2 linked regions of the Homo sapiens genome follow. The protein of the gene in region 1 purifies or fractionates together with the protein of each later gene. This does not show direct contact. Each region holds a gene or a part of one and is shown in the gene's direction. Other genes may lie near its edges.

Region 1 (3,500 bases):
ATAGATCAGCACCTCCTGTGCTCAATTTACCAAAACAGATTGCAGCCTGGCACCTGGAAACCTGTGTGGCCTGCAGGTGTCTTCTCTAGCCCTGAATGGGTTTGTTTTTTCTTTAAGTTGTTTTATTTAATTAACCAATACCTAAATTAGATATTAGAAACTTGAATGTTCTGGTTTGTCATAAAATCTGGCCTTAGTGGACTGGCATTTTGATACAGCAAAAATTGGTTGGAGCTGAGTAGAGGCATTCTCTTTAGATGGAGTCTGTGAGCTCTAATTTGCTTTCTGGCTTATTTCATTCATTTGTAATCTACCTGAATTCTACAGGCATTCAGGCTTACTACCCCTGTTCTGGTATATTCTCTAGCCTTACTGGTTTACCCTAATCTTTACCCATAGTTAAGGCTAAGAGAGTTTTTCTCAATCCAATTAGTCATAGAACAGCAGGATCCTTTTTTCCCCCGACTCTTAGGATAAGCTCTTGTTGCAAAGGAAACATTTCCTTTTAGTAGCCATAATCCAAAGTTAGCTACATTCACTCATTCAACAAATAGTCAAGTACTTATCATGAGTCAAGCACCGGTGATACAGCAACAAACAAAATGGACAGAAATTCCTGTCTTCATGGAGTCTCTATTCTAGTAGTCTCCTGGCTCAGTTTGCAGACATTTATTGAATCTGCTTTTGTTCTACACATGAAAATCTATTTCCTGGTATCCTTTTTCTAACAGCCTTTATGGTAGTCTTCTGCTGTGCTTTCTTAACTCTTTCAAGGCACCAAGCCCTTTTATCTTCAGTTCTTCCTCTAATCCTGCTGCTAGAATTTCCTACTTTCCATGTCTTCTTACCAGTGAGTTGCTATATCCATTTATCCCTGGCCATTATTTCTTCTCAGACAAACCATTATGCCTTGAATATTTGTCACAGTTCACTTACCAGAGCCAAAAATTTAACATAGGAATTCATAAAGCATTGATGAAGAGACAGAAGTCCCCTTCCTCCCCTGCAAAAAAACGAGCTTTTTTTCTAAGAGAATCCCTCTTCAAGTTACTTCCCAGTTTTTGTTCTGCCTTGCAGTAGTATCATTCTCCAATAGGTAAAATTATTCACTGTCTCTCACTGTTCAGACCTCTGCAGTCTGATCTCCCTAATTGTATTGATACTATTTTTGTGACTGATGTTCTTCCGATTTTTAAATTTATCTTCCTAAATCTCATTTTAAAACTTTGAGCACTGTAGGATCTATTCAGTTTATAAATCCCCATGTGCCAGGTCCTGTGCTAGGTGCAAAGGTACCTTTTTAGTCTATCAGAAGCTCCCTCCCATTGTTTTAAGAACTAAGTATTTGAGGTACTAGTTTTGTTCTTTTTTCTCTCTGAGTATAATCTCCTTCACTCCCGAGACTCTGCAATGATAATTCTCTTCCAGATTTCAACCTATGAATTTATTCTGTAGCATTTGTTGTTATGAGCATCTCTTCTCCCCTACCTCTTTGGCTTCTGTGGCAGTACTTTATCCTCCCAACTTGCAGATCATTCCTTTTCCCCTCAGATGACAGTTGGTGACGTTCTTTCTTCCATTTTATTACCTCCTTTGCTAATCCCGCCTATTCCATAGAATCTATCACTTATTTATGTGCTAATAACCCTGACATCTAATTATTCCTTTGAACTCTAGTGAACTCTAGGCATACATTTTCATTTATTTGACCACTTCTTGAGGACCTCACATTCAAATGCAAGTATAAAATCTATACACAGTGTAAGAATTATTTATCTCATGCGAATCTCTTCTAACTAGCTGCTTACACTAAGAACTTGGTGGCATATTGACTCACCTCTCCTGCACACCCTTGCCTTAATTCAATCCAGCTAGCTAAAGTAGTCGTGACTATATTCACTCTCTGTAGTGTCTGATCAGTTTTCTTTTATTCCCACGGTTCTGTAATAGGTTCTCATCTCTTGACAATGTATATAGAGTACCTACCATGAAAAAGTACATTTTCTATTTCTCCCAATCTCCCATAGAATTCTAAGAAAAATAAAACTTGAAAATATCTCTGTTTGGAAGCCATTTGACTCCACATTGAAGACTGAAGAAATTTGTGGCTTTAAAAAATCTGGTGCTAGAGAAGTAATGCAGGCTTTGATTCAAACACGTTGGAGTGCCTGTCTGTTCCAAATACTCTATGCCTCCTTTTTTTGCTTAAAATGGCAGGCTCTGGATCCTCTGTTCTGCTATATTCAGAGCAGTTCTACTTTCTTCTTTTACTGATCAGATTTTACATTTTCTTAAAAGAGAGTTCTGTTGACTTTAAAAAAAAAAAAAAAAAGATTGCAAATCAGCGCTCTAAGCAGCATTTTTGCCACGAAGAATGACATTTGATGGAAACAGGAAATTAGTACTTTCAGCTGGGACCCGTACCTTTGCCTTTCTGCTGTTCCTTGTCATTAATAGTGGTAGGATACTACAAGTCTGTAAAACTAGTAACTGTATATCAAAAACTTAAGACTAGTTTTTAGTTATAAAATTCACGCATGTATGTAGTTAACATTAAGTATATGAATGTGTACAATTATGCCTAACTGCTTTCACAACTTTATAATGTCAATATTTATAATGGGAACATTTTCTCACTCTAGAGGTAAGTACTGTTGTCTCTTGTTTTCTTAAATGGCTATAATATTCCATTATACAGATATATGATAATGTATTTAACCAATTCCTTGTTAATGGATTGTTACGTGGATTTTTTGGCAATGAACATCTTTGTACATAAAATTGGGTTTTAAGCTTTTGTCCTTTATTTTGAGTTTCACAGAGAGGTTAAAAATATAGGCTTTGTTCTGCGCTCAGTTCTTCTAATCAGTTTTGTGACCATGCACAGTCACTTAAGTTGGTGCATGGTCCTTCCTTGTTCAAACCCTCTTTCCCCCATCCTGTTTTTCCTACTTCCTTAAGAGCCAGTTTCCTTAATTTGGCCCCCAAAGCCCTCTAAGATCTCCTTATCTGCCTCATTGACCTCATTAGTTACCACCCATCCTCAGTTTCTGTATTCTAGTTATTGTCTTTTTCAAAGTTATTAGGCCTCCTTGGGGCCTGTGTGCTTCTTGTGCCCATAGAAAGAGAATATCTTTCCTTAGATATTTGTATGGCTGGATCTTTTTTTCTTTCTTAGTTTATATATTAACTCTAAGAATCTCTACTTGGCTTTTTGCTTTTTTTTTTTTTTTTTTTTTTGTAGTATATTTCAACTTCTGAATGTGTCTTCCATCATGGGGTATGAGCTCCATGAGAGGAGAGCCTTGTCTGCTTTATTCATGGCAGATATTCATGTCATGGCAGTATCCCATCCCCTAAGACAGTCTTTGGCACTTAGTAGGTACTCAGCAGCCACACCATTTTGAATGAATAACCAAAGTGACTTAACTACTCTGTGCCTGTTTCTTCTATGCAGGGAGGATAGTGATGCTTACCTCAAAATGTTCTAGGTTAAACAA
Region 2 (3,500 bases), on another chromosome or scaffold:
TTATTACTGATATCAGCCACAAGACTCTAGTGGGCCATTTCCATGTTACTCAATAGTTGTACTCATATGGTGCTTGACATATAGTATAGATTTATTGAAGGAATAACTAGAAGTAGACTATAAAGGGATATGTCTCTAACACTGTGGTTTTCTTGGTTGCTGCTTCCTACTGTGGAATTTCATAAGTTCCAGTTTTCTCATGCTTTAATGATACAGAGCCCCCTTTACCAGCAGTGGATCAGAGACCAAGATATAGAGACCCCTTTAAAGGAAAAAGAAACAAACAATGCAAGTGCCCTTGTTTATGGTGTTTTAATTAATTGTATTACGTTTCTTCAAATTACTCTGGCTAAAAATAAATGCAAAAGTAGAAATACATTTGGGAAAAACACAATGCAGAGATTGGTATTATCTCATAAAAAAAAGTCATTGCAGGCCCAGCACAGTGGCTCACACCTGTAATCCCAGCACTTTGGAAGGTCAAAGTGGGAGGATCACTTGAGCCCAGGAATTCATGACCATCCTGGACAACATAGCAAGACCTTGTCTCTACAAATATTAAAAAATTAGCTGGGTGTGGTGGTGTGTGCCTGTGGTCCCAGCTACTTGGGAGGCTGAGGTGGGAGGATCACTTGAGCCTAGAATGTTGAGACTGCCGTGAGCCATGATCACACCACTGCACTGCAGCCTGCTTTTTTTTTTCTTTGAGACCCTGTCTCAAAGATTAAAAAAAAGTCATTGCAAGAATAATTGCTTTTGAAAAAATTTAAGAAATGGGAAAATAGTTGACATTATTTTATTTTGGGAGTTTTGTTTGTTTCTTAGGTTTTCATTGCTCAGTCCCGATCATCTGGAAGTCACCGAGATGTTGAAGATGAAGAACTTACAAGAATCTTTGTTATGATACCAAAGTCCTACACAGAAGAAGATCTGCGGGAAAAATTTAAGGTATTTATTCTAATCAGCTAGCATATGTGATAACTCATAGTCCTGCATAGGTTGTATGGGTACTAAATCTGAAATGTTGTTGGAATAAGGTCAATAGAGTAGTCTTGGGGAATTACATAACTGCTTTCATCAATTTCAATCTACTCTTTAAATATTAAACCTAGCATAAATTAGTTTTTAAAATTAAAGAATATATAAAAGCTGGAAAATAGTAATGGTAGTCTCTCCCTACTTTATTGTGAAAGTAGAGATTCGCAGAAATGAAGCATAAAGCTCAGAAACTTTTAAGTAAAGTCACACAACTAGTAGGTGGTAGAGCTATGATTTAAACCCAGGCTGTCGGAGTCTGGAGCCTGCTCTTGGTCTTTAAAATTTCAAAGCACGCTTTTATCACTCCCCTCTATTGCCTGGCATGTAGAGGCGAATCAGGCAGACCTGAGTGTGTGAACTGTATTATCTAGTATTGAGAACGGGCCTATGGTGTGTTGACATGGTACTCATTCACAGAAAGGCTTATTCTTTGAAGAGTTTTTGTCCTAAAATTGGGCCTTTGAAGGAATTATATTTAAAGAAGAAAACGTAAATATAGCTCTGACCTATATAAGTGAAATTTGAGGATAATTTTATGTCTTTTTAGCCATTAACTTATGCAGTGATGAGCTTTCACACAAATTATTAAAAAGCAATTTTTTAATTGTTTTGAATTGTAGTTTTTTATCTTTTTTCTACTAATCCTCCCATGAATTGGGTGGCAACAAGCAAGAAAGAAAACAAGCAGTAAAAAGTAATTTTCAAACTTTCTCTCCTACCCCAATTGAGAATTCAATGAAATACTTCAAAAATAACAAATACCAAAAACGTATATTTTATACATCCTCCAGTAGTAAGGAAAATGTTTTTTACCTTAAATATTTATAAATTTTTCTTTTCCTGAATGAACAAATATAACACTTTAATGTATAGTAATTAAGTTGCTAATTGATTACATAAGAATTTATAAAATAAATAATAAATACCAATTATATTCCATATTTCTTTGAACATTGAAAGTAAACACTACTGCATGTTTCTCAGAATAGTAACTTTCTGAGTGAACCAGCATATTTTAGAAATACCCTTTGAAAAGCACTCCTTCAAAAGAATACACAATCATTTATGTTCCTGTTAGAAGACAGACAAGTAATAATAGCTAATGTTCTTTGAGTATGTTCCAAGCCCCATGTAAGCACTTCACATGTTTTACTTCAGTTAACCCTTAAACAACCCTGTGAGGTAGATACTACTGCTAGCCTCTTTAATAAAGAGGTAGGCACAGAGAGAATAAGTAAACTGCCTAATTAATGAGTGGTTGATTCAGGATTTCAATCTAGAAAGTTTAATTCCAGAGCTCTGGCTCTTAACCACTGTTGAGCAAGACTTTGGAGCTATCCAGACCATGTACAAATTCTTACTCTTCTGTGACTTTGTCCCTCTTTGATTTCTCTAAAGCCCAGCTTCCTTATCTATGAAATAAGCATATTTGCAAATACAAATATGCAATATCTGCATATTTTATACTGCCTATTTCTTTGTTTGCATGCAAGGGTCACATATAAACAAATTTTTAGTTCTGAAATACTCTGTTCAATTAATTTTAAGTCCCCTAAAATCATGTCTTTTAACTCTCTTAGGTGTATGGAGATATCGAGTATTGCAGCATTATTAAGAATAAAGTGACTGGAGAAAGTAAAGGTTTGGGCTACGTACGATACTTAAAACCATCACAAGCTGCCCAAGCAATAGAAAACTGTGATCGAAGTAAGGATGTGTTTAACATTGTTAAAAACTTTTGTAAAAAATTCTGATTATTCTAAATAGCTGAATTTAATATTAGTTTTTGCTAATAACTGTATCTGCTAATGTAATTTTAGCAGTGGGTATTTAAATATTTACAGTCCAAGGAAGAAAAATATTTTGGGGTTATGATTAAACATTCATTGAGGCACTATCTTGAAGAAATAAGAGCAACTACATTAACTTAGTAAGTGAAATGCATACTTTGGGTATTATTTTTATAGGTTTTTAGGGTTTTTTAAGTGTATTTTAGAATTTTAAGTATTAAAAACTTGACTTACCTTTTCAAGGTTTTTAAAATATTCTTTATATTTGTTTATATTTGATCTACATCCCAAAGACTATAAAGTATAACTAATAAACCTATAGGTTAAGGGTAAGATTTATAAGATGTGCTAACATAGGTAACTGATATAGATAGGGTTAATTTCAAGCTAGAGTGACATGAATGTGATCTTCTGATGTTGCTGTATATATAAAGAATAAGAATTTTAAAGATGTCAAAGAGAATATTCTTTGTTGGTATACTTCTAGTTAGGTATATTGACCTTTAGAAATGATATGTAGAGTAATTAAATTACTGGATTTTAGGACATTATAAAAATATATACTTACTGGAAAGAATTACTGTTAATCAGTAGAATTCTTAGATACCCCTAAGGTACATACCCAGATTTTCTCTTAGATCCTTCTAAATTTCTCATTTAGCTAGCAGTAAT

What was found. Proteins that work in one complex are often made in the same cells at the same time.
Region 2: the proteins of PAIP1 (region 1) and RBM45 purify together in Homo sapiens (affinity purification with mass spectrometry; 2 studies listed by BioGRID and IntAct, with this or other methods). This does not show direct contact.

Annotation. Positions count from the first base shown.
Region 1 is NC_000005.10:43,550,578-43,554,077, reverse strand, and holds part of PAIP1 (polyadenylate-binding protein-interacting protein 1), read left to right. Parts: intron 1-3,500. UniProt on the Homo sapiens protein: Acts as a coactivator in the regulation of translation initiation of poly(A)-containing mRNAs. Its stimulatory activity on translation is mediated via its action on PABPC1. Competes with PAIP2 for binding to PABPC1.
Region 2 is NC_000002.12:178,115,437-178,118,936, forward strand, and holds part of RBM45 (RNA-binding protein 45), read left to right. Parts: intron 1-825; coding exon 826-948; intron 949-2,618; coding exon 2,619-2,745; intron 2,746-3,500. UniProt on the Homo sapiens protein: RNA-binding protein with binding specificity for poly(C). May play an important role in neural development.